Homo sapiens: one gene and its partners. The protein of the gene in region 4 interacts with the protein of the main gene of each other region in a biochemical or structural test. Each region holds a gene or a part of one and is shown on either strand. Other genes may lie near its edges.

Evidence for each region.
Region 1: the proteins of RPS6KB1 (region 4) and PDK1 form a complex in vitro, tested with the Homo sapiens proteins (2 studies listed by BioGRID and IntAct, with this or other methods).
Region 2: of the proteins of RPS6KB1 (region 4) and MAPT, one has a biochemical effect on the other in vitro, tested with the Homo sapiens proteins (2 studies listed by BioGRID and IntAct).
Region 3: of the proteins of RPS6KB1 (region 4) and RPTOR, one has a biochemical effect on the other in vitro, tested with the Homo sapiens proteins (6 studies listed by BioGRID and IntAct, with this or other methods).

What each region holds. Positions count from the first base shown.
Region 1 is NC_000002.12:172,559,076-172,566,103, forward strand, and holds part of PDK1 ([Pyruvate dehydrogenase (acetyl-transferring)] kinase isozyme 1, mitochondrial isoform 2 precursor), read left to right. Parts: intron 1-3,144; coding exon 3,145-3,216; intron 3,217-3,665; coding exon of another isoform or gene 3,666-3,725; intron 3,726-5,035; exon of another isoform or gene 5,036-5,055; intron 5,056-5,427; coding exon 5,428-5,612; intron 5,613-5,902; coding exon 5,903-5,998; intron 5,999-7,028. UniProt on the Homo sapiens protein: Kinase that plays a key role in regulation of glucose and fatty acid metabolism and homeostasis via phosphorylation of the pyruvate dehydrogenase subunits PDHA1 and PDHA2.
Region 2 is NC_000017.11:45,897,546-45,904,573, reverse strand, and holds part of MAPT (microtubule-associated protein tau), read right to left. Parts: exon of another isoform or gene 5,776-7,028; intron 1-5,775. UniProt on the Homo sapiens protein: Promotes microtubule assembly and stability, and might be involved in the establishment and maintenance of neuronal polarity.
Region 3 is NC_000017.11:80,547,818-80,554,845, reverse strand, and holds part of RPTOR (regulatory-associated protein of mTOR), read right to left. Parts: intron 1-7,028. UniProt on the Homo sapiens protein: Component of the mechanistic target of rapamycin complex 1 (mTORC1), an evolutionarily conserved central nutrient sensor that stimulates anabolic reactions and macromolecule biosynthesis to promote cellular biomass generation and growth.
Region 4 is NC_000017.11:59,931,100-59,938,127, reverse strand, and holds part of RPS6KB1 (ribosomal protein S6 kinase beta-1), read right to left. Parts: intron 6,507-7,028; coding exon 6,406-6,506; intron 3,959-6,405; coding exon 3,868-3,958; intron 3,695-3,867; coding exon 3,604-3,694; exon of another isoform or gene 3,600-3,603; intron 2,936-3,599; coding exon 2,828-2,935; intron 1,914-2,827; coding exon 1,851-1,913; intron 1,665-1,850; coding exon 1,587-1,664; intron 551-1,586; coding exon of another isoform or gene 502-550; exon of another isoform or gene 354-501; intron 1-353. UniProt on the Homo sapiens protein: Serine/threonine-protein kinase that acts downstream of mTOR signaling in response to growth factors and nutrients to promote cell proliferation, cell growth and cell cycle progression.

The DNA of each region.
Region 1 (7,028 bases), on a different chromosome or scaffold from region 4:
GTAACTGGGATTACAGGCACGTGCCACCACGCCCAGCTAATTTTTGTATTTTTAGTAGAGACAGGGTTTCACCATGTTGGCCAGGATGATCTCGGTCTCCTGAACTCGTGATCCACCCACCTTGGCCTCCCAAAGTGCTGGGATTACAGACGTGAGCCACCGTGCCCGACCAGAGTCTTAAGGTAGTAGCAGTATTCTTTTTTTGGCTGGGGGCAGGTGGGGGCAATGTATTTGGGCTTGTGCCCTGAATCGTGGACTCCACAACTTCTTGATTTTGAGAAAGCCAGTCAAAACTGCACTGAAATACAGATGCTAAATTTAGGATTTATGTTAGTATATCTTCAAGGATATTATAAGAAAAAATGTCTGCAATTTGTTGATGACTGGGTATTTATGTATATTGCCTTTAATCCCTTCAACAACCTTGCACAGTGGGTATGATTCTCTCCATTTTATTCATTGTTATTATTTTTATTTACTTTTTGTTTTTGAAATGGAATCTTGCTCTGTTGCCCAGGCTGGAGTGCAATGGCATGATCTTGGCTCACTGCAACCTCTGCCTCCTGGGTTCAAGTGATTCTCCTGCCTCAGCCTCCAGAGTAGCTGGGATTACAGGCACCTGCCACCATGCCTGGCTAATTTTTGTATTTTTAGTAGAAATAGAGGTTTCACCATGTTGGCCAGGCTGGTCTCAAGCTCCTGACCTCAGGTGATCCTCCCACCTTGGCTTCCCAAAGTGCTGGGATTACAGGCATGAGCCACCACTCCTGGCCTACTTATTTTTTTGAGACAGGTTCTTACTCTGTCACCCAGGTTGGAGTGCAGTGGTGATCACAGCTCAGCTCACTGCAACCTCCACCTCCCTGGCTCAGGTGATCCTCCCACCTCGGCCTCCTGAGTAGCTGGGACCACAAGTGCATGCCACACCCAGCTAATTTTTGTATTTTTTAGCAGAGATGGGGTTTTTCCATGTTGCCTACGCTGGCCTCAAACTCCGGAGGTCAAGGTATTTGCCCACCTGGGCCTCTCAAAGTGCAGGGATTATGGGCATGAGCCATTGTGTCTAGCCTGTTTATTATTTTTTAAATTAATTTATTTTCTTTTTAGAGACAGGGTCTCCATCACCCAGGCTAGAGTGCAGTAGTGTGATCATGGCTCACTGCAGTCTTGACCTCCTGGGGTCAAGAGATTCTCCTGCTAAGGCAGCTGCCTCCCGAGCAGCTGGGACCACAGCCATGCGCCACCATACCTGACCAATTCTTTTATTTTTTTGTAGAGATGGGGGTCTCACTTTTTTGCCCAGGCAGGTTGTGAACTCCTGGGCTCAAGCAGTCCTCTCACCTTGGCTTCACAAAGTGTTGGTATTACAGACATGAGCCACCGCACCTGGCAGGTTAACTCTGTACAGATGAGGATGCTGAGGCACATAAAGGTTAAATCTTTTGCGTAAGACAGTACCATTGATAGTGGAGTTGGGATTCAAACCCCCATTTGTCCATCTCTGCTATACCGTGCTATAGTCAGAATGATGAAATATATGAAAGGATATATGTATTTTTAATAAACTGTGTTTATTGAAGGGTATCTTTTTATAAATTACAAAAGTTAAAATGTTTATTTTTCTGTTTTAAAACAATTAGAAGTTTTTGGAATTGTGTAGAAAAAGTGTGATCTCTTCCCAAAGATAAGTAGAGATGTTAAGGGTATACACTCATGGAGCCACCTATATACAGCCTTCATTAATGTTACTGATTTAAAAGTGTTGTTCTTTTAAGCACTGTATGCTTCAAACAAATGAGTTGCCCAGAGTTAAGTCTTAAATGGAAAAGGTTTAGCTGCAGGGCATTTCCCAGTTATGATTCATGGAGATTCAAGTTTTCTTTTTGTAAGCATTATAGCGTATGGGAGAAGTTGATCTAATCGCAATTTAAAAAAGCAAAATATGACTGCTATATATATGATAATCAGATGCTATCTAGTCCAAGTATGGAATAGTTATAAGTGTGGATTAAATGGGAAGCATTTGTTTAGTAATTATGATGGGATATAATGGAGAAAATATAATATTCCATGGAAGATTTTTCCTGTTTTTAAAAAATTCTTCATTAGAAGTAGAATATGCTGCTTTTTGAAGCTTATCAGTCATGAGGTCTGATCGGTGCCTGTTGTAGGTACTCAAATATCTCTTGGATGGAGAGCGTAGTTGTTCTTGCCAATTAAGAGGAAATTAAGGGTTAAAGCAAAGCAGCAGCTGCTATCAGAATCCCTTAACTTTGGAATGCAGTAAGACATATTGCTTGTCAGAAACAGCTTTCCAAACCAACAGATGGAATTACAGGTTTTTAAAGCACTTCCATTGCTCCTAGATGCCTGCTAAGTTAGGACAGTTGCAGATAAAGTGCTTACAGCCAAGTGGAGCAGATCCCTTACACTGTCGAAGAAAGTAATTCAGTGGTAGCAAGTTATTTTTAGCTCTGGCCCCGCAGTGCCATTGTACTTGCCTGCAAGACCATCAGAAAATCATTTGGCCTTCTCTATTTTGCTCATTCCTTAACAGATGCTTTGATACTTCGAATTGTTAGATAAATTTAAAATGTACATTTTTATGACTTTTGTGTTTTTTGTTCAGTTTAAAAGAACCATGTAGATTATAGGCTTTCAATAAATACTTGTTAGTTGGACATAAATATGTAAAATTAAGGTTTTAAAGCACAGATATTTAAGATACAGTCTTAGAGCAAGAGAGGCTGTCCTCCTTTTACTGATAATAAGACAAATTAAGTCATTTGCCCAAGATCACATAGTTACTGGTGACAGATCTCAGCATAATCAGTATATATACTGTAATGTACAGTGGTAAATTAAAAAAAAATTAAAAGCCATTTTAGAATGTAGAACTCGGAAAATCTTAAAATTCTTAAATTTGACCTTTGCTTTTAGGAGAAAATGTGCACCTTCTACCATTCATTCCCAGCACTTTGCTTGAATGTGCATGGGTGTAAAAATTATACTTCAACCATAATTTATAGCAGTATTCTAAATTAAAAATTATAAAATGCTAAAAATAGCTTTTGAGCTAATTTTCATGATATTGAACTTTCAGAATATAAAAGAACAAACTTATCCTATTGATCTGCATTTTAGGTATATCCAGAGTCTTCAGGAGCTTCTTGATTTTAAGGACAAAAGTGCTGAGGATGCTAAAGCTATTTATGAGTAAGTTCACTATTTTGACCCTATTCTTAAACCTATTATTAGGTCACTTGGGGGAAATTGGTTAACTTTTAGGTTTCTACTACTTTAGAACATGTGATATATGTGACTGTAGCAGCCCATACAGGCAGGACAAATAACAATCAGCAAATTTGACTAGGCATAAGAAATGCTTCGTGTTCCTCTTTAACAAAAGACAAAGTTCAGGTGTGATGATCAGTGGAAATGTAGGTGTGGCCTCAGTGCCAGTTGGACTGTTCACCTGGAGGGTGCATGCTCCTTCTAATGGACAACCACCTTCAGCCCCAGCTGATCTTTGCCATATGAAAATACTGCCCATATCATCTGATTGTTTTCTGATTTTAAAGGAAAGCTACAAGTCTAGATTTGTAATGTAAAATCTCTCACTTTTGAAAGATTGGTAACTAATTAAAACATTTTTTAAAACACAGAAGGCCTAGAAGAACATGGTTGCAGGTCTCTAGTTTATGCTGTATGGCCTGCAAGATGATGTAAGTAATATGACAATGTTAATAACCCATATACCAGAATTGGTAAACCAAAGTATTTGCCTTATGCAGCTACCTGCTTATTGCAGTGAAGGGTACTGAGAGTGTAATGACCATCTCTTGTCCTCAGTTAGTTACACATGTTTTTTGGACTGTCTTTAAAGTGAACAGTAACACTTCATTTTTTTAAACATGATTTTAATCTGAAAATAACTTCAGCAAGAGTTTACTCCTTGCTTAGGTATTGAGCAGACTTTACATGAATGATGTTTTTTAATCTTTAAAACAATTCATTGAAATAATGCTGTTTGTGCACAAAGAGGGTAAGTAGTTTAAGGTTACATAGTTAGCAAATGGTAGAATCCAAGCAGTCTTACTTTAAAAGTAAACATTATGTTATAGAGCCTTCTGAAAACAGTCATTCAGAGCTGTGGAAAATAAGTAGTCAAGCAGAATAATACAGATTTGTGTTTCTTTGAAGCAGAAAGAAAATAATAAAGGAGTGACTAGAATGATGAGTTGTTTGTTGTTTTTGAAGAGTTTTGTTGTTTGTATTTTAGTTTAACAGTCTTGTTTTGAAGCGCATTACTAACTAGGAATTCCAAAAATGTTTTAAGCAGTGGAAACATCATTGGAATAAGTTAATAGTACTCAGGATGATGACTTTGAATAGGAAAGCACTCATTTGGAAGTGTAAATTCAGATGGGTTATGTTAGAAAATTGGTTTCGTTACTGCATAATTAAGACTTCTTGGGCCGGGCACGGTGGCTCACGCCTGTAATCCCAGCACTTTGGGAGGCCGAGGCGGGCGGATCGTCTGAGGTCGGGAGTTCGAGACCAGCCTGACCAACATGGAGAAACCCTGTCTCTACTAAAAATACAAAATTAGCCAGGCATCATGGTACATGCCTATAATCCCGGCTACTCAGGAAGGCTGAGGCAGTAGAATCACTTGAACTCGGGAGGTGGAGGTTGCAGTGAGCCGAGATTGCGCCATTGCTCTCCAGCCTGGGCAACAAGAGCAAAATTCCATCTCAAAAAAAAAAAAGACTTATTTTCTCTTTTATTTAGTTATTTAACCATGCAGTGTCTTCTAAGTGACAGAGATGGGAAGACTAGATGATTTGAAGATTTGTCTTTTAATATAATTGTTTACTTTTCCTCTCCCATTTTATAAACTCATAGGATGAGTGAAATGAGAATTCTTTTCTGTTTTTCTGTCCTAAGTGTTTCCTTCTCTCTTTGAACCCTAGGGAATAGGTCCAAAACAGGCAGGCTTTATTGGCTCATTCATCTTGATTCCTTGCAGAGCAGAGCAGGTGTTCTCTAGAGGCAAGTGCTTTGTCTCCTCCTATGCAGAATGTCTCTGGAATACCATCCTCTTAGCCAGTGCTCAGATGACCTTAGTTGATAACAGTTAAAACCATTAACATTTTTTGGATTACGTTTTGTGGCAGCCTTACTCTTAGGAAGCCAAGAAAAGAATTAAATCTTGAAAGTTTTATTTTGGAGGTCTGTATACTTTCATAGATTTGGTATATTTTATGATCTGAAATACATTTAAATAAGTATAGGAAAACATGAACCGATTTTCCTTTTATTAAATTGGGGATTTTTTGTCTAGCATAGTTGGTTAAGCTTATATTTTTGTATTAAGTTTACTTGTCAAAATATTTGGCTGTTTTGACAGATGGGTTTGTTTAGCTTTACAGATACTGTGATACGGATCAGAAACCGACACAATGATGTCATTCCCACAATGGCCCAGGGTGTGATTGAATACAAGGAGAGCTTTGGGGTGGATCCTGTCACCAGCCAGAATGTTCAGTACTTTTTGGATCGATTCTACATGAGTCGCATTTCAATTAGAATGTTACTCAATCAGCACTGTAAGTGTCCCTCATGAGTCAAGAGAAGAAGCTAAATGAGATGTGTTGGCATATTTTAAATTTATTTAGGAAAGTTCCATTTAGGTAGGAAATTTAGTTTTACCTTTTGGCTAATTAAGAAAAATAAATAGACTGCCATCAAGAAAGGTGTTTTTATTGAATGTAAAATACTATGTTTATCCTAAAGGAAAATATTTGTTCTGTTTGGTACAATTTAAACAGTATTCAGATTTGGAAAAGAGCATTAGGTGGTTTAGCTTATTTTGTTGGTTTTTTTCCTTTTTGGATAGCTTTATTGTTTGGTGGAAAAGGCAAAGGAAGTCCATCTCATCGAAAACACATTGGAAGCATAAATCCAAACTGCAATGTACTTGAAGTTATTAAAGGTAAATACTGACATTTCTCCTTGCAAAAAAAGATACAAAAATCAAAATTATTGTTATTTCTTACTATTAAAACATCTATTTGTATCATGAGATAAAATGGTAGGCACAAATGCATGGGTTTGAAAATAACCTTATAGTATTATTTGTGCATTATGTATAGGATGACTATTTTATTGATAGAATTATTTGTTAGGCAAAGTTTGGTGATACTATAGAGGATATCTTTTTTGTTTTGTTTTGTTTTGTTTGAGACAGAGTCTCACTCTGTTGCCCAGGCTGGAGTGCAGTGGTGTGATCTCAGCTCACTGCAGCCTCTGCCTCCTGAGTTCAAGCGATTGTCTTGCCTCAGCCTCCCCAGTAGCCGGGATTACAGATGCTCAACACTACGCCTGGCTAATTTTTGTATCTTTAGTGCAGGCAGGGTTTTACCATGTTGGCCAGGCTGGTCTGGAACTCCTGCCTGCCTGCCTGCCTGCCTCGGCCTCCCAAAGAGCTGGGATTACAGGCGTGAGCCACCGAGCCCAGCTGAGGGTATCTTTCACTTAAAAAAGAATTGAAGTCCCTACTGCCCTGTTTCTAATTCTTACACTATGAGCAGTAATTCATAACAATTTGGTTTGAATCATTTCACACTTTTTTCTATTTATACCACTTGTACACATACACAATTGATGTTGGTCTTACATTGTTGTTTTTAGAAAATGGGGTGCTCTATGTTTTTTTCTACAAGTTTACAGACATCTTGCTGTTCAGTACATCTGGATATGCTCCAAGGTTTTGAATGGCTCTATGGAATGTATCAGTATGTGTTAATTAATTCTCCTGTTCATGCACACTTAGGTTGTTTTAATTTTTTTCTGTTACCACCAATACCAGCAGTACTGCTGTGAACATCCTTAAATACACGCTCACTTTTGCTAGTATTTTAGAGGTGAGATTCCTAGAATTAAAAACATTTAAATGCATATAAAATTTTGGTATCTCCAAAAAGGTTTCAAACAATGGATAAGAGTGTTTCCTAACCAACTCT
Region 2 (7,028 bases), about 14 Mb from region 4:
GCTACAGACACATGCCATCATGCCCAGCTAATTTTTACAGTTTCCTTTTGTAGAGACAGGATCTTGTTTTGTTGCCCAGGCTAGTCTCAGACTCCTGGCTTCAAGTGATCCTCCCACAGTGCTGGGATTACAAGTGTGAGCCACCGAGCCTGGCCTCATTTATATATATATATGTGTATATATATATAATATATATAAAATATATTTAATATATATAATATATATAATATATATATAATATATAATATATATTATATATGTTTTTATATATATTATATATTATACATATTATATATATAAAAATATATATAATATATAATATATAATATATATTATAATATATAATATATATAATATATATAATATATTAGATATATAATATATACAATATATTATATATATAAATATATATAATATATAACATATATAATATATACATATATAATATATAATATATAATATATATAAATATATATAATATATAAATATATAATATATAAATATATAATATATAATATATAATATATATAAATATATAATATATAAATATATAATATATAATATATATAATATATAATATATATAAATATATAATATATAATATATAATATATAATATATAATATATATTATATATAAATATATAATATATATAAATATATAATATATAAATATATATAATATATAAATATATAAATATATAATATATAATATATATAATATATAATATATAAAATATATAATATATAATATATTTATATATTATATTATATAAATATATATATTATATTTTAATATATATTATATATATAAAAAAAATATATATAAAACCAAAGAGATTCCTTTTTTTTTTTTTTTTTGAGAAGAAGTCTAGCTCTGTCGCCCAGGCTAGAGTGCAGTGGTGCGATCTCGGCTCACTGCAACCTCCACCTCCCGGGTTCACGCCATTCCCCTGCCTCAGCCTCTCGAGTAGCTGGGACTACAGGCGCCCGCCACCACGCCCGGCTAATTTTTTGTATTTTTAGTAGAGACGGGGTTTCACAAAGCCAGGATGGTCTCAATCTCCTAACCTCATGATCTGCCCGCCTCGGCCTCCCAAAGTGCTGGGATTACAGGCGTGAGCCACCGCGCCCAGACTGCCTGATGTTGCCCTGATTAATTACCCAAGAAGTCTCTTTTTGGGGGACAGGCCATGGGAGGGGGATGAGGCAAGACAATAGTTTGGTGCCACTGTTCAATTAAGAACAACTGGAAACAGGTACCACTGAAATGACCTGCAAATCAATGGCAGAACTGGATCCGATCCAGGACAACTCTGTTGACACATGATTTAGAACGCTGGCTCCAATTCAGGAGGAGGAGCTGTCCTTTACGCTGGGGGAGGAGCACCGTCCCACGGTTCCATGAATTTGTCCTTCCCAGCACTTCGTTCTTGGCATTCTGTGGCGTCTGTAGAGCACATGACAAGCAATTACAGAGCCAGGGGTCTTCTAATATCCTTGCTATCCCAGGGAGGAGGACACAAGCATGAAAGTGCATCCCTGGACTTTTTGTGGTGAAACTGCAGACTTAGATCCCAAGATAACATCACCAGCCTTCTCAGTAAAACAGAAAACTGGGCCATAGGCTGGAAGGAAAACCAGCAGCTGGGACTAGAGATAATTATGTCCCTCTTCTCTTTGATGCCTGGATTTAGCAGTAGGGTGGACGGGGCCAAAGGAGAGGAATGAATGAAACATTATTATCAATTGCTTCAGATTTAATTCTCACTTGCTGATTTAAAACTGTTTTTAGTGTTGGACATTGATCTAAGACTCTTTCCTCAGGGGAGTTAATATAGCAAAGGGAATTTAAACTTATTTTCAGTCTGTTGAGGAGGATTTTACCCTCTTAAGTTGGGATTCTATGTGAATGACTTCAAAGTGCTGTGCTAGTCCTGGCAGACAGACAGAAGATGGGCGGGGAGAATGCCCACCTTTTACTAATTTATAAGTTTCCCCAGTAGGTGTTCTTCTGATACCCTGTAAGAATAAGACATGAAGGTCTGTAAACATGCAAGGCTGGGGTCCACACAGCCTGATCTGCAGTCAGGACTGCCTCTTATCACAGCCAAGCACTTACTAAAGGTCATCTGTGCCCATTCAAAATCTTGTATGTACACCAGACTTGCTATAATAATCACATATCCTAAATAAGGTGCAAGCTGGCCGGGCGCGGTGGCTCACACCTGTAATCCCAGCACTTTGGGAGGCCGAGGTGGGTGGATCACTTGGGTCAGAAGTTCGGGACCAGCCTGGCCAACATGGCGATACCCCATCCCTACAAAAATACAAAAATCAGCCGAGCATTATGGTGTGTACCTGTAGTCCCGGCTACGGCGGAGGCTGAGGCGGAATTGCTTGAACCCAGGAGGTGGAGGTCGCAGTGAGCCAAGATCGCGCCATTGCACTTAAGCCTGGGCGATAGAGCGAGACTCCGTCTCAAAAAAAGATTAAAAAATAAGGTGCAAGCTGATGGAGTAAAAGTGCTGAGGAATAAGCTCTTCAAATCATTCAATGATTTTAAGAAAATTTAGTTGAATGTTTTGGAAAGACTTCATAAAGGTGAGTAATATTTACTATCAAATGGGATGGTAAAGACCATGAAAAAAAAAAAAAAAAGTAAAATCCCTGAAGGATTCTGCATTCAGATGACTCCACAATGTAAACCCAAAATCCAAACTGAAATCGGAGGACCCAGACAGTGCATTATTAATGTGGCATAGGCAAAACAGACAAGAAATTTCAACTGGCTGATCCAGACACCAAGAGAAGACCTGAGCCCTGTGTCAAAAGATGGGTGAACAAATTCACATTTATATAGTTTCGGTTAAAGTAAAATCTTGGAAATCTATGTGTATCATTTAAATGATTTTCTGATATAATGACTTTTTAAAACTGATATATTGTTACTTAGTCTTGATTTAAGCGATAAGAAGGCTTCTTAGGCCGAATTTATTAATTCATAAATGACTATACTTATTGGATACATGGAATTCCTAAGATTCAGTACACCACAAGTTTGCTTTATTTAATCCTTTTCTACTCTACTCTCAACCAACCACCCTGAAATCTGTTTGCCAGTTTACCAATGTCAGCACTCTGTTGAATTACTTCATTTGTAAAATCTCTTCTTTACCTCCTTCGCCTTCCCTGACTGCCATTACTTTCTCGATCAGCCCTCACTTTTTATTCAACGAGTAAACTGGAAAGATCTCTGAACCCGATGTACTAAGCCAGGTCACCCTGCCCGGGATGGCTGGCGGGAAGGCAGGTCAGTTTGGGCTGGTGGAGAGCATGCAGTTTATTCCTGGCATGGAGTGGATTTCAGGAAGAAGATGAGGCAGGGACAGCAGATGACAAATCTCCGCTTGCCTGTGGCAAGAGTTCTGTGTGTACATTTAAACATGGGTGTGTGCAATTTTCAGAGGATCCACTTCTGCCCAGTTTGGTGCAGGGGAGCTGGGTAGTTGCCGACTTTTCCTATCTTGATCCCTACTCAGTGTAACAATTTATCTGTACAACTGATTCCATCACCAGGATCTTTAGACCCCTCTGGTCATTCAGCCAATCACAAGCACTCATCCACAGGACACCGCCGATGATGCCATTTACTGAGCAGTTACTATGTGCTTGGCCCTAGTGAGTACCGGGTTAGCTTGTGTGAACCCCATGGCAACCCGTGAGACAGGTACCATCATACTCCAAGTTGTGGATGACAAAAAACTCTCCAAGCAGCTAAACAATATGGCTTAGGTCTCACAGTGAGCAGGGAGCTGGGATTTGTGCCCAGGAGGCCCGATCAGAGCCTACCTCCTTAACCATTAGGCCAAACTGCCTCCACATGCAGAACACTGCCCTGCACTGGGGACCTGGGGGAGGGTAACAGTGTCTGCCCTTGAGCTGCTCCCAAACCTTCCTTGAATAGCCTTGGCACAAAATGCATTTCTTGGGGACTCGCTGACATGGTGTTTGGATTTCTATCGGGTCCCTGATTGGGCTCAGCATGGAGCCTGATGAAATATGAAAAAAGCAAAGAAAATTAAGGGACTATACATGGAAGTTGTTCGAGTTTGTATTTTGCTGAAGCCCATTCTATCTGCATGCTTACAGAAAGTTTCCTAACTGGAGAACCCAGAAAGCTCAAAACCTGTCTCAAATTCCTCCTCACACTCAGTTGGGAGCCATCTGGGCAGGCAGGGAACCTGGCAGAGGTGGCAGGAGCATGGCACCTGGAGACAGGAAAGGAATTCTTGGACAGCAAACTCTTTGGCAAGGCAACAGGGGCGAGACAGAGGATTCTCAGGTAGCCCCAAGGTACCACAGTATAATGGAATACTTATTGCAAAGCCTGGGCCCCAGGAAGTGAGAAAAGCCTCCCAGGCCCATCTTTGCCAAAAGATTCTTACAAGAGGACTTGCCTATGCCCACCCAACTCAACCCACACCCACAATCTCAGAGCAGGCCTCATCAGTGGGCGCCAACGCTTTCACCTTGCCGAGGTACAGAACCTAAGCTGGGGATCTGATGTCCCTAAACCTCAGAGACTTGACCTTGGCCACACTGAATCTACGTCTTGATCCCCCAGTCTTGATTTCCAGCCTTCCCTGGGTCAATCAAACCAGCTGCCCCGTCATATGGCAGAGCAGTCCAGAAACCCTGGATTGGGGGAAGAGGTTTAAGGACCTTAGGAAGAGATATTTGCTCTTTGTTTTATAAACAGAGCACCAATGTAGAGTGAAATGCCTTGCTCTCTGTGTCGGGGCCAGATAAGAAATTGAGAGCTTTAACTCCACATCTCCCTAACCTTATTCTGGGTCATGCTCCGATTACAGACTCTTGTAAAAATTCATTTGTGAGACAGTGGTTTTGGAATCAATATTCTACTGGGTCAATGTTATAGATCATATCTGGGTTCCCAGACTAGTCCACAATGGCCAAGTAAACCCACATGTGGCTGAGAGGGGAGGGAACTAGTGTCAGGCAACCAGCTCCACCACCCACTGGCTCTGTGACCTTTAGCAAGTTACTAACCCTCTCTGTGCTTCAGTTTCCCCATCACGGAGATAATAACAGCACCTGCTACATAGCGGAAGTGTTGTGAGGATTAAATGAGATAATCTTAGCAAGCACTTAGAATAGGGCCTCCTAAAAGACACTCAATGAATGTAATTAAGATAGCAGTGCCAGTGTCAACCCCAGCAGTGGTGACATTGGGACTGGGTCATATTTTGATGTAGGAGACTGTCCTGTGCCTTCCTTGTAGGATGTTTAACAGCATTCCTGGCCTCTACCCACAAGATGTCAGTAGCACCCTCCCCGAGTTGTGAAAACAAAAACATCTCTCTAGACATCTCAGTGGCCCCCAGTTGAGAACCATGGTTTTACAGGAAAACAGCTGAGAGTCCCTGCTGGAACATGAGGACTCCTCTCCCTGCTGCAGCCCAGCTGGTGAGGCTGGGGTCTTCTCTTCCCGTCACCTGCTGAGGTGCCCCCCAAACGCCAGCTCCATGTCACTAGTGGAAGCACCTAACTCCTGGGCATGGCAAGTTAGGAGTGGCCAGGGGGGTGTTTCTGGGAGTGTGAGGGGGCTTTGGGGGTCTCTGAACACGGTGATGAGGAAAGTGGTGGTGGAGGAAAGAGCAGAGTCAAACGCAGTTTCCCACCTGCTTCCCACTGTATTTCCCCATTTATCCTTCATGGATAAAATCCATTTGGTATGGACCGAATACCTCTTGTATGTCTAGCACTGTATTAGGCCCCTACGGCTGTTTTTATTTGTTTTTGAGTGATTCTTTTTCAAGGAGGGAGTAAGGAAGATGCTAAATAAATACATCAATAGAAGGCAAGGTCCAGTTGGAAAATTATCACATGTCCAATTGGAAAAATAACACGTGTTCGTACATATAGCCACAGAGCTACTGAAACCACACACATAAATGCTGAGGGAAAGTGGAATAAAACAGTTTCTTTAAATTTTCAACAAATGGACTGTAACAACAGATGTTAAAAAGGCAGAAGGAAAACCACAATCTTATCCCATCTCCAGGCTGGCACCGACCTCCAAGGGCATGAGGGTCAAAGGGCACGTTTAATAGAAAGGCCACTTTTTCCAACCGGAATAAATCTAACCTTTCCTCAATCAAAGCGATTCTAAGTTTTCTAACAATTTATGGGCAGTATCCATTTCTTTTGTTCCTGTCGGAGGAGCAATGCCTGATATTAGAAACCACTTAAAAGTCACGCCCTTCCAGCAGGAACAGTCATGGACTGTCACTCATCCAAAACCCAGCAAAGCCAACAAGCCCCTTCCCCAAATCGTCCAAAGGTGAACCCAAGAGCCAAGCCAGGTTATTGCTATATAAACATCTGTTAGAGAAGCAAACTTGGCCAAGGAATGTATGAGCTTCAAGAGTCACTCCGGACCTGCGTAGCAGGGGTGGGGGCAGGGGATACACTTATCTGTTTATCCATTAATTTGTTTACGTAGAGGGAGGATTTGGAGATGCTTATACAGTAAATATAAGCAGCTTATACAGTAATTATAATACAATGCTTATACAGTAAATACAATGCTTATACAGTAAATATAAGCAGCCATCACAAAACACAAAATGACACCCCAGAATCAACCGCGGTAGGAAAGACATTTCCCTGTCTCCTGTAGGATGGGTCAGTTAAGGGGCCGAGGGGGATCAGATAGAACTCAAATTGGTCCTGCTGAGCCTGGAGCCTGAGCACGCAGAGGGGTGAGCTAGGCAGTCGCTGTCGGAGCCCCCATCATCCCTTCCAGCCTGGACCATTCTGAGACGGAGGTTTGGAGTTACAGGTGTGTGAGCGCCAGAGGGTGAGAGGGGTCACTCGCTCGGAATGTAAGAGCTCCCGCCTGCTGGGAATGGGGAGGAGTCGTCGATGGCCCCAGGATCCGTGCCCAGACATTTCCAGAGGCGCACCGGCTGGTTCAGCACCCCACCGTCATCCGCGCAAAAGC
Region 3 (7,028 bases), about 21 Mb from region 4:
ATTTTTGCAAATCTCTTTAATATCCAGCTTCATAGAAGACAACTGGATTCTCATTTTTTTTGTTGTTGTTGTTGTTTGTTTTGTTTTGTTTTGTTTTGTTTTGAGACAGAGTCTCACTCTGTCACCCAGGCTGGAGTGCAGTGGCGCAATCTCAGCTCACTGCAAGCTCTGCCTCCCGGGTTCACGCCATTCTCCTGCCTCAGCCTCCCAAGTAGCTGGGACTACAGGCGCCCGTCACCTCGCCCGGCTAATTTTTGGTATTTTTTAGTAGAGATGGGGTTTCATCGTGTTAGCCAGGATGGTCTTGATCTCCTGACCTCATGATCTGCCCGCCTCAGTCTCCCAAAGTGCTGGGATTACAGGTGTGAGCCACCGCACCCCACCTTGGATTCTCATTTTTGGTGCCACATTCAATGGGTTGAAATACACTGTTTTGGTTGAAGTATGTGAGAAAAATCTGGCCTCACAAAGATACATAATGGCAGGAGTATCAGAATATCCAAATAATTGAGAATATTATTATTTGATATTACAACAAAATTGAGTAAGTGGTAGTTTCTTAAAGATCTGTTGCAATCTATTTGAATAAAATATTTAAACTCTCACTATAGGCAACATAGTGAGACCCCATCCCTACAAAAAATCCAAAAAAAAAATCTAGGCATGGTGACTCACACCTGTAGTCCCAGCGACTCAGGAGGCTGAGGCAGGAGGATCACTTGAGCCCAGGTCAAGGATGCAGTGAACTGTGAAACAAACAAATAACAACAAAAAATATACACACACGCACACAACAGAACATCAAGCGGGGTGTGGTGGCTGACCCCTGTAATCCCAGCACTTTAGGAGGCCAAGGCAGGTGGATCACCTGAAGTCAGGAGTTCGAGACCAGCCTGGCCAATATGGCAAAACCCCATCTCTACTAAAAATATGAAAATTAGCCAGGCGTGGTAGCAGGCACATGTAATCCCAACTACTCAGGAGGCTGAGGCAGGAGAATTGCTTGAACCTGGGAGGCGGAGGTTGCAGTGAGCCGAGATCGCGCCACTGCACTCCAACCTGGGCAACAGAGCAAGATTCCGTCTTAAAAAAAAAGAAAAAAAAACACCTATCCTCTGGTGAACTTTTTGTACCCTATTACATTAAAATCCACTGGTCTAACATTGAACGGATCTTTTACCTATGGATGATTTTATAATATCATGGATTGGTCATCTGGAAATATTTGTTCACTGAATTATGCAGCTGTTCCAAATGTGGGCACATTTCATTCTACAACATTAATTCCATTCATTAATATCACTATGGATCTCACCAGAAACATCTTTAAGTCTTGGGAAGCTGCCAGGCTCACAGCGGCAGATACAAGTTTTCCAAAACCAATTTTCACTTGAAGGTTCAAATTTCATGACTGGCAGCAAATACTGTCAGCTGTATTCCTTGAAGTGACAGCTCACTAAGTTCATTTTCAAAAACACGTCTGCCGTGGACACAGGCCTCAACATCCAGAGGCGGCCTGTCGGTGATTCCTTTGGGACGTGCTGCGTCCATGAAGGCAGCAGATGCTCCTCCTCCAGGCAGCCACTGGGCTTTGCCTGCAGGAGAAGGAGCAGCACACACAGTCTGAAAAAGATGTGTGCTTAACAGTCAAGATTTAGTAAAAGTCATCATTTTCACTGCTTTATTAGCAAGGACATTCTCTCCATGTGCATGGCAAAGAAATCAGGAACTAGTAGTACAGCTTGGCACCGCTGTCTTGATTCATCACTTTTGCACTGTCAGTGCAGGTATCAACAGAGTGGAAAAGGCCAATGGTGTTCCATTATTATGAAAACAGTTTTGACCTTGTGGATCCCTGCAAGGGTCTAGGAGAAGCCCCAGTGCACAGGGCACATGCTGTGAGCAGACTGAGCATCCTTCTCTGTCTGCTGAATGTTGGTCTGCTGGTCTGCTATTTTCAACCCCCTGACCTCTTAACATAAATGTTTCAGTGGAGACATTATGATACAGTTTTGTTTTGTTTTGTTTTGAACTAAACTTTGTTTCTCCCTCTGCACAGGTTCCACTTCCTCTCACTGCTAGCCATGTTACTTATGTAACTTTAGGTAAGCCATTCAACTAAAACGTCAGTTACCTCATCAGTAACACGGAGAGAATGATCCCTAGGTAATTTATGGTGCTGTTGAGCCTTAAAGATAATGTATGTGGAAGCCTTTTGTAAACTATCCATTTTGTATCAGTATAGTTTTGTTGAATCCCTACTATGTGCCAAGCACTGCCCTATGGACTAGCATAGACTAGACTAGGTCCTTGCTTTATGATGAAAAGCTCACATCTCCAGGAGGAAGTAGGGAGAAAAATATCAGAGAAATAAATAGCCATCAGGAGGGTTTATGAGTGACAGGGTGGCTGCTTCAGATGGGGTGATGGTGGGCCTCTCTGAGGAAGGGACCTAGATGCTAAGTATGAACGACGAGAAGGGGCCAGGTGTGCAAAGATCAGAGAGAAAAGCATTCCAGGAGTTTCTATCCAAGAAGCAGAAAAGGCAGGCAGAGGCCAAATCATGAAGGCTTTGTGAACCAGCAAGAGGAGTCTGAGTTCTACTTTAAGCACAGAGGAAGCCAATGGAGACCACCAGTAAGGAAGTAACAGAATCTGATTCACACTTTTGTGGGGAAAAGCAAGAGAGATCAGATTGTTACTGTGTCTGTATAGAAAGAAGTAGACATAGGAGACTCCATTTTATTCTGTACTAAGACAAATTCTTCTGCCTTGAGATTCTGTTAATCTATGACCTTACCCCCAACCCCGTGCTCTCTGAAACATGTGCTGTGTCAAACTCAGGGTTAAATGGATTAAGGGCGGTGCAAGATGTGCTTTGTTAAACAGATGCTTGAAGGCAGCATGCTCCTTAAGAGTCATCATCACTCCCTAATCTCAAGTACCCAGGGACACAAACACTGCGGAAGGCCACAGGGACCTCTGCCTAGGAAAGCCAGGTATTGTCCAAGGTTTCTCCCCATGTGATAGTCTGAAATATGGCCTCGTGGGAAGGGAAAGACCTGACCGTCCCCCAGCCCGACACCCGTAAAGGGTCTGTGCTGAGGAGGATTAGTAGAAGAGGAAGGCATGCCTCTTGCAGTTGAGACAAGAGGAAGGCATCTGTCTCCTGCCCGTCCCTGGGCAATGGAATGTCTCGGTATAAAACCCGATTGTACGTTCCATCTACTGAGATAGGGAAAAACTGCCTTAGGGCTGGAGGTGGGACATGCGGGCAGCAATACTGCTTTGTAAAGCATTGAGATATTTATGTGTATGCATATCTAAAAGCACAGCACTTAATCCTTTACCTTGTCTATGATGCAAAGACCCTTGTTCACGTGTTTGTCTGCTGACCCTCTCCCCACTATTGTCTTGTGACCCTGACACATCCCCCTCTCGGAGAAACACCCACGAATGATCAATAAATACTAAGGGAACTCTGAGGCTGGCGGGATCCTCCATATGCTGAACGCTGGTTCCCTGGGTCCCCTTATTTCTCTCTCTATACTTTGTCTCTGTTTCTTTTTCTTTTCCAAGTCTCTCGTCCCACCTAACAAGAAACACCCACAGGTGTGGAGGGGCAACCCACCCCTTCACACTTTCAAAAAATCCCTCTGGCCAGGTGTGATGGCTCACGCCTGTAATCCAGCACTCTGGGAGGCTGAGGTGGGAGGATCACTTGAGCTCAGGAGTTCAAGACCAGCCTGGCCAACATGGTGAAACCGCATCTCTACTAAAAATACAAAAAATCAGCCGGGCATGGTGTCATGCACTGGTAGTCCCAGCTACTCGGGAGACTGAGGCACGAGAATCTCTTGAACTCGGGAGGTGGAGGTTGCAGTGAGCCGAGATCACGCCATTGCACTCCAGCCTGAGAAACAAGGAGAGACTCCATTTCAAAATAAATAAAAGATCCCTCTGACTGCTATGTGAAAAACTGGTTGTAGGGCAAGAATGGACATAGGGAGACCAGTCAGGACACAAATGCAGTGTCCAGACAAGAGACGGTGGCTGCCTGGACTGGGGCTGCATCAGTGGAGACAAAATGAAGCAGGCCAATGTAAGACATGCTTTGGAAGTAACGCTGATGGGTTCTAATGAATTGGATGGGGCGATAAAGAGAGGGAGAGGAAAGAATTAAGGATAAACTCTAAACTTACAGCTTGAACAACTGAGTGGATGGTGGTTGTGGCAAGCGGTGATGGAGAAAACTAAGAAAAAGCAGGCAGTAGGCATCTGAGACAGAAATTTCAGGCCAGATCAGAACTAAAGATTGGGGGTTTAAGCATCACTGGCATGTAGACACTATTTAAAATCATGGGCCCCGATGAGATCTGCTAGGGAGGGGCACACCCAGAACAGAGAATGGGGTCCAAGATCAATTCCTGGGGTGCCCCTGCATTTAGGTGTCAGGTAGCAAAGGAGTCTGAGAAGGAACAACTAGTGACCTAAGAGGAAAATCCGAGTTTCGTGGAGACACAGAAGCAAGTGAGGAAAGAGCTTTATGAAGAGGCCATGGTCCACATTGTGGAATGCTGCTGAGAGGTGAAATAAGAACAGAGAAGGACAGAGAAGAGAACTTTAGATTTAGCAACAAACTGGGGCCATATGGAGACCAGTCTCAGGGGAGTGGAACAGGGCACAGTTGGAATGTGGAGAGGACGCAAGGTGAGGAAAGCAGAGGGGGTAGTGTAGATTATGAAGGATTGCTATTACCCTTGCTGAAAAGACCGCATAAACCTTTGGCAGTCCATGTATTAGTTGAACAGATCTACTCTGCTTCCTCCATGACCTGGGCAAAGTATGGCTACAGAGCAATGCAACTGAGTCTAGAGAATGGTTTACAAAATAGCCTTCTTCATCTAACCGTTTCATCCCCTACACATGTAGACATAGGATGCCTGTCAGTGGTCCTACACATGCATGGAAATAGTGTCTGACAATGACACCACACATGTGTACACAGAATGTGTCTGCCAGGGGTGCTACATGCATGTAGACAGAGTGTCTGTCAGTCTACATGTGTGTAGACATAGCATGTCTGTCAACACTTTCAGAGCAATAGCTCTCAAGCACCCGTCATTCCATCCCACATATTCCAGGCAAAAGAGTCATCTGAGACCAGTTATCCCCACTGTCCACTTTCCAGTAGGAAAATGAACTCTGTGATAACTATAAAGTATCACAGTTAGACCAGGCACGGTGGCTCACACCTGTAATCCCAGCACTTTGGGAGGCCGAGGCAGGTGGATCACCTGAGGTCAGGAGTTTGAGACCAGCCTGGCCAACATAGTGAAACCCCGTCTCTAATAAAAATATGAAAAAAATTGGCCAGGCATGGTGGTGGGCACCTGTAATCCCAGCTACTCGGGAGGCTGCGGCAGGAGAATCGCTTGAACCCAAGAGGCGGAGGTTGCAGTGAGCCAAAAACACAAATAGGGGAGATATATACGTATCTGTTTTAGCCAAAGGTCTGTGAATGATTCATTTTGAACTACAATTCATATATGTCTAGTTATTTGAAAATTGCAAGCTAAAAACACTATGGATACATATATGCCTCATTCACTATACATAGTAGAATTAACCAAACAACAAACTAACTTGATAATAATTTTAAAGTAACAGTAACTTAGAAATTAAAATGTGGTAAAAGTGGCATTTGAAAACCAAGACTGATTCAAAACAAAGATGGCAGGAATCCCAACTGAGAGCGGGCAAGGGCTGTAGCTCTGGAAGGATGCCAAGTGTTGGGTGGCAAAAAAAACTTCTTGGGAGTCATCAGTCAGTCAACTTTGGTAAAGATGTCAATTTGAGGAATCTGTAGCAAGGCTACTAAATAGGAGCCAGTAAGAACTAATGAATATATGTACAAAATAAAAGCGTATGGAATTGCACATTAACCACAAGAAGAAGCAAAATCTCAGCTTGCATTTAGGACAGTCAGTGGCCACCAGGAAGTAGTTGATGTAGCTCCTAGCACAGAACAACCACGCCCACACATTTCACTTTACAAACATGCTGCTCCACCAGACTGGAGGCTACGTCCAGCACAGTGGGACTGTGTGGCCTGGAGGCCTGGGTAACAGAGATTCTTACGTAGGTAACCCACTGGTCAAAAAACACCCCAGGGCCAGGTGCTGTGGCTCACACCTGTAATCCCAGCACTTTGGGAGGCTGAGGCAGGTGAACGACCCGAGGTCAGGAGTTCAGGACCAGCCTGGCCAACATGGTGAAACCCCATCTCCACTAAAAATACAAAAAAAACTAGCCAGGCGCCTGTAATCCCAGCTACTTGGGAGGCTGAGGCAGGAGAATAGCTTGATCCTGGGAGGCGGAGGTTGCAGTGAGTCAAGACCACACCACTGCACTCCAGCCTGGGCAACAAGAATGAAACTCCATCTCAAAAAAAAAAAAAAAAAAAAAAAAAAACCACCCCAGGCTGAGCGTGTTGGCTGATGCCTGTAATCCTAGCATTTTTGGAGGACAAGGCAGGAGGATTGCTTGATCCCAGGAGTTCAAGACCAGCCTGGGCAACACAGTGAGACTCCCCAACCCCAGACACACTGGCGCACACTTATAGTCTCAGCTACTGGGGAGGCTGAGGTGAGAGGATCACTCAGGCCCAGGAGGTCGAGGCTGCAGTGAGCCGTGTGATCTCACCACTGTACTCCAGCCTGGATGACAGAGCAAGACCCTGTCTCAAAAAAAAAAAAAAAAAAAAAGAAACAGAAAAACACTCCACAAATGGGGTTGTTCAGCCTGCAGTGTTGGACTACAGTGTGTTTGGTAATAAATCTGAATTAGTATGAATATTTACAATAAAAGAAAAAAAAAGTTTGCTGACTTCTCAAAGACAAAGAGAGAGGCCTGGCCATAGCCCAGTTGCCCCTTCAGTTATGGCATCAGGGAGCCCCTGTTCCCACCCTCCAGAAACTGTCACACACACTGTGCCAAATGTCAGCTGCCATTTGTCTTTATCTTTG
Region 4 (7,028 bases):
ACTGTCAACTTCTGAGGTGTGATGATGGGATGGCAGTTATGTTTAAACAAGATGACCTAATCATTTTTTAAGCTGGGCAGTAGGTATATGACAGTTAACTTCCTTACAATTGTTTGTTGTTTTTTAAAGTGGGGACATTATGCTCCATGACCAAAAAATAATCACCATCATCATCCTCCTCCTTCTCCAACTACATCCTAAGGAATGGAAAAAGAAACTGTATTTTCTCAGATTCTGAGGTGGGAGAAGGACAATAACTAACACACTAACTGATTTACTCACAAACATATTGTTATGGGTTGAATCGTGTGCCTTACCCACCCCCAAAAAATTTCGTACATTGAAATTCTAACCTCTAGTTCCTCAGAATGTGACCTTATTTGGAAAGGGTTATTGCAGATGTAATTAGTGAAGATGAGGTCCTACTGGAGTAGAGAGGAACCCTAATCCAATATGCCTGGTATCCTTATAAAAAGGGGAAATTTGGCCACAGATATGCACACAGGTAGAACACCATGTGAACATGAAGGCAGAGATCCGGGTGATGCACCTACAAGCCAAAGAATGACAAAGATTACCAGCAAACCACCAGAAGCCAGGGGAGAGGCATGGAACATACAGTTTCTCACAGTAGTCAAAGAAACCAACTCTAACAATGTGATCTAGAACTTCTAGTCTCCAGATCTATGAGATAATAAATTTCTGTTGTCTAAGCCACCCGGTTTGTGGTACTTTGTTGCAGCAAGCCTAGCAAACGAATGCACACATATTCTATACTTTGAAGAAAAAATTCCCAGAGAATCATATTTAAAATGGTTAAATTAAGCAAAATAAAACAAACCAAAAAAAGGAAAGTCCCAACTACCTGAAATATTTGTCTTAGGTAACTGACTTAAAAATAGCTAATACAGTCAATTGCCACTGGGTTTAGTTCTTTACAAGATAGTACAAAAATAAAAGATGCTTGGCTGGGTGCAGAAGCTCACACCTGTAATCCCAGCACTTTGAGAGGCTGAGGTGGGTGGATCACTTGAGCCCAGGAGTTCAAGACCAGTCTGGGTGACATGGCAAAACCCTATTTCTATAAAAAATACAAAAAAATTAGCTAGGCATGGTGACACGTGTCTGTAGTCGTAGCTATTTGGGAAGCTGAGGTGGGAGAATCACCTGAGCCTGGGGAGGTCAAGGCTGCATTGAACTGTGATCGTGCTGCTGCACTCCATCCTGGGTGACAGAGTGAGACCCCATCTCAAAATAAAATAAAATAAAGATGCTGGAGAGGATAGACCAGAGATCTTTGAACTGCTAATAAAAATAATGTTTCTGTCTGCTCTGAGATTTTTCTTATTCTAAAAAAATATCAAGCGATCCTCCTGCCTCAGCCTTGCAAGTAGCTGGGACTTACAGGCACAAGCCGCCACACCCAGCTAACTTTTAAATGTTTTGTAGATATGGAGTCTTGTTATGTTGCCCATGCTGGTCTTGAACTCCTGGCCTCAAACAATCCTCCCACCTTGGCCCTTTAAAGTTTGGGGATTACAGGCGTGAGCCACTGCACCCAATTATACACTTTCATGTATACTTACCAACAGAGGTTTAAAGGGGGGCTCCACCTTTCGAGCCAGAAGTTCTTCCCAGTTAATGTGTCTAAAGAATGGATGAGCCTAGGAAAAAAAAAGCAGGAAGAAAAGTTGAGGGGACTAGACTTTGCTGGATTGATAAATTAATCACCTTTTTGAAGTTACAAGTCACAAAATAAGCTAAACTTATAAGCAACTACATATAACCCTCAGAAATACATAAAACTAGCATTATCTTCCCCACAAAACACCAAAGATGCCAATCCCTACTTGAACTTCTCCAGCGTCCCCAGGACCAGCTCCCAGACGAGAAGCAGCATTTCTTTTCAGCAGCTTTAAAGAGGAAAAAAAGCTTGGATAAAGAACCTTAGTCAAACTGATTTTTTTTTTTCCTTTTTAGACTGTGCTTGTCTACTTTGGCTTGAGAAAATATAGTTTATTGGCCAGGCACAGTGGCTCATGCCTGTAATCCCAGCACTTTGGGAGGCTGAGGCAGGTGGATCACCTGAGGTTGGGAGTTCGAGGTTGGCCAACATGGTGAAACCCCTTCTCTACTAAAAATACAAAAATTAGCCTGGCGTGGTGGTGAACACCTGTAATCCCAGCTACTAGGGAGACTGAGGCAGGAGAATCACTTGAACCTGGGAGGTGGAGGTTGCAGTGAGAGCCAAGATCATGCCATTGCACTCCAGCCTGGACGACAGAGCAAGACTCCATCTCAGAAAAAAAAGAAAAGAAAAGAAAAGAAAATATAGTTTACTAATTACTACTTAATATTGTTTAAGGGTCTGTAATCCCAGCACTTAGCACTTTGGGAGGCCAGGGCAGGTGGATCACCTGAGGTCAGGAGTTCCAGACCAGACTGACCAACACGGTGAAACCCTGTCTCTACTAAAAATACAAAAATTAGCCGGGCGTGGTGGCGGGTGCCTGTAATCCCAGCTACTTGAGAGGCTGAGGCGGAAGAATCGCTTGAACCTGGGAGACTGAGGTTGCAGTGAGCCAAGATCGCACCACTGCACTCTAGCCTGGGTGACAGGGCAAGACCCTGTCTCAAAAAAAAAAAATTTAAAAAAAGAATATGAAAAGAAAGTCTTTAAACAAATCTGTACTTCGCCTTCAAAAATTGAAGACTTTTTTGTTCAATATTTATATATGACTCTTTATTCAAAATATACATTAAATTCTATCTAGTTAAATCCTAGTCATTGAATCTTGTAGTGTCAGTGACCATTTAAGAACCTTACCTTTTTAAGCAGATCTCTGGCTTCTTGTGTGAGGTAGGGAGGCAAATTGAGTTTACATTTGAGGATTTTGTCAATTGTTTTCTTTCTATTCTCCCCAGTGAATGGGGGCTAAGAGTAGAAGACAAGTGAAAAATATTAGCAGGGAGAGAAAAATATTAGCATATAAGAAACAAATTTTGAATAATATTATCCATTTCCTAAATTAGTTATACATGGAGATCAGAAATGTATGCTGTGAAATGGGCTAACTGCTAAAGACCTTTATTTTGTTTTACAGACAGGGTCTCAACTATGTTGTCAAGGCTAGATTCTATTAATAATCCTTAGCTCAAATGATCCTCCCACCTCAGCCTCCTGAGTAGCTTAGGCTACAGGCATGCACCACTGTGGCCGGCAGACGTGCAGTTTTTAAGCAACAGGACAGAGGAAGTAGCAGTGTCCTGGAAGGAAGCCTGTGTTTCCACCATTAACTTTCTGTGTGATAAGTGAGCTATGTGATTTTATGCTTCAATTTCTCCATTTATAAAATAAGGGCATTATCTATTCAACATCTATTTCACAGGCCTGCCATGACATAGATCATTTAAAAGAAAATGTTTCGGAAAGTATGGGATCCCATATAATCATACAGCATTATTAGTGTTAAACTGCTAATAACAAATCTTTGGGCTTTGAAAACTCCACTGGTAACATGTTCAGAAAGCACAGGACAGGTCTCTTGCTATAGTGACTCAGCACAGACCAATAATACATGCAGCTTTTAACTGTGCACCTACTGCTCCAGTCAGCATGTCATACATTAATGCTCCCAAACTCCACCAATCCACAGCACGATTGTGGCCACTTCTCATCAAGATTTCAGGGGCCCTACAATGAGGAAAATAATATGCTTAAAAATTCACCCATTTGCATATCATCTGAATTAGAATTTTAAAAACAATATACAGAGTCAATGAGGGTACAGAAAACAGATACTATTCCTTAAAACAGGTAAAATTAGCTATTACCCCCAAACCAATTATGTTTAACATGTAGCTCACATGTATTCTATTGTTCCACAAAATGTGTGTGTGACTGTTCCATCATGAATAGATTCTTTGCATAGTCCAAAGTCTGTTAGTTTCACATGACCTACAATGAAAGATTACAGCATGATTATTCTCCGAATTATAAGTATGTGCAGTGTTTGAACATGTCACATAATACTTTAATCTATCCTTCCATTTAACTTTTCTTGCCTCAAATTTTCTTGCAGATGTCAAGAACAAGGTACCATCCATAAAATGGGATGCTAACTGTTTAAGGCTAGGGCAAAGTCACCTTTTGCCAATGATACAATCTATCTAGTAAAGAGAAAATAAAGATAGAGAAAAAAGTGAAATAACCTGTTTAAGGCTCTAGCTTTAAGTATATACAAAATTCTCTACCATCCTGAAAAAGAAAAATCCTGGGAAAACTGTTTTATGAAGTCTAGTTTACGTACACAGACCCCAATAAACATACTCTGTACCTTTTGAACAAAGGTGTGAGACAGTACTTCAAATATATAGCTTTTATCACAGTGAACTGTGAAGAGTCCTTAAAATGGTCTCAGAAACTCATTATAACAAGGTAGCTCATTCTGCCCAATGCTACCAATTAGGGGAAAGAAAGAAAATTGCTAGATAGTATGAATCAATCATCACTGATCCAGAAAGTAAAAAACTTACCACCTTACACAAAGATCATTTCAGTTCAAGTTTAGCTTTCTTTACTGGACTGTCATAACAAGTGGTTCAACAATCTCAGGGACTCTAGTATTTGAGGTTCATTTCACAGAAAAGGCACAATGACCTATTGATTCAAATGTAAATATATACTACACTCTGATACAGAAGAAGTATGGCCTTTATTTTCACAGAACCATCTGATACACTCAACCTTATAAATCAAAGAAGTTAACTATTCTATCGCTCCCCTATTCTATCCTGTGACTTATAATTCAGATCAGAATCCACGTTTTGGGGAGTGAGGAGGTGTTGATGAGAGGAAGGAAGAGACACTGATTCCCATGATATATTCAGTTAAGTATATCATTTCTCCTTAAAAAAAAAAAAAAGGTGGGTGGAGGAGTATAATCTGGAATGTTTATATGAGCCTCAGTTGTTCATACATCATTTTCTAAGAGTTTGAAACAATTAACTACCTCATGGATTATTCTGTAGACATCTAAGGATTAGCAGCTGCTACCACCTTCTAGATACCCTGGGTCAGCTGGTTGCTCCTTTGGGGTACGAGTGAATTGCCAAGTCTACCTACAGCCCAGATTAGCATAAATTGAGCTGTCTTTAGCAGCATGCAGTTGTAGTCAAGGCTCACTGTGCTATATCTATAGTTGTATAGATTATCAGTCTCTCTGATGTTTATGTTTGTTGTTACAAACAAACAGCAAGAATAAACTGATTCTGGCTGGGGGGAAGGTGGGTTATGCCTGTAATCCCAGCAATTTGGGAGGCCAAGGCAGGCAGATCAATTGAGCTCAGGAGTTTGAGACCACCCTGGGCAACATGATGAAACCCCATTTCTACAAAAAATACCAAAAATTAGTCAGGCGTGGTGGTGTGCCACAGTGGCCCCAGCTACTTGAGGGGCCGGGGTGGAAGGATCACTTGAGCCTGGGAGGCGGAGGTTGCAGTGAGCTGTAATCATGCCACCATACTCTAGCCTGGATGACAGAGTGAGACCCCCATCTCAAAAAAAAAAAAAAAAAAGTAACCTGATGCCTACTAAACATCATATTTCCAAAGTTTTATCAAATACTTTGGTTCAATTTCAATCCTTTTCCCAGCATTAATAAAACCTACTGTAAGAAGCATAGCTTCTAATATTCACATATTTTCTTTTTTTTTGAGACGGAGTCTCGCTCTTTTCACTCAGGCTGGAGTATAATGTCGCGATCTTGGCTCACTGCAACTTTCGCCTCCTGGGTTCAGGCGATTCTCCCACCTCAGCCTCCTGAGTAGCTGGGATTACAGGCACCCACCATCATGCCCAGCTAATTTTTTTTTTTTTTTGTATTTTTGTAGAGATGGGGTTTCACCATGTTGGCCAGGCGTCTTGAACTCCTGACCTCAGGTGATCCACCCACCTTAGCCTCCCAAAGTGCTGGGATTACAGGTGTCAGCCACTGTGCCCAGCCAATATTTACATATTTTCATTATTAAAACTCAACTTATATAATTGAGATTCACTTTTCAATTTAAGTAACAAGCCAAAATTAATGTTTAGACTGGCTTTTACAGTCTAAAACATTATACAACATTTGATGTAAAGATTCCAAAAACATGAAAAACTATAAAGAGTAAGGATTAAACTAAAAAAGGCAGTTGAGCGACTATTATCCTCAACTTCTTTTACTCTCACCAAGCGTAATTACCTAAAGACTTAAAATATCAGCAAGTACTATGATGCCATGAATTCTGAGGGAGGAAATATACAAAATAGAGAGATGAATTTGGGGCTTTGAAAATGGCCACGACCTATGTGGGAGGATTTTAAGATGATTATTTACTATAGAATTGTTTACGGTATGTCTCCACCTTGGTGATTAAGCATGATATTCTCCGGCTTCAGGTCTCTGTAGATGATCCCCTTTTGATGTAAATGCCCCAAAGCCATGGAGATTTCTGCCAAGTAAAAGCTGGAAACAAAAGTGATTTAATAAAATTAAAAAGAGTGTAATCTATCCAAAGCAGTTTACGTATGGAGCAAAATTCCTTGAAAGAAACAGACATGCACCAAAGACCAAATTAGTGGGGTAGGGGGATGTATTGGAAAAAGAGATGGCATAGGATGCTGCCAAAAGGCATGGGGACATTTATGTTTCACTCATTTTAGTGAAACTATAAAGTGCTTTATTTTGCCATTAGAATATATTGCTAAAATTGCAAAGATGTCCAGAATATGCTAAACTGCCATTGGTCATGTTTTGTTCTGTCTGTGTAGGAATTAAGCTAATAGCCATTCATTTCAAGCAAATTTCTCCCATCCACACCCAACTTTAAAATCCCATAGGAAATAGGAACTTTGTTATTCTCAGAGATCACATCTTGATTTCAAAAGGTATCTTATAACCTGACCCTTAGAAGCCCACTCATCCCTTACTTAATACAGCTACATATTTATAGACAGCTGAGGCCCACAGTATCTGCCCTCCCACCTG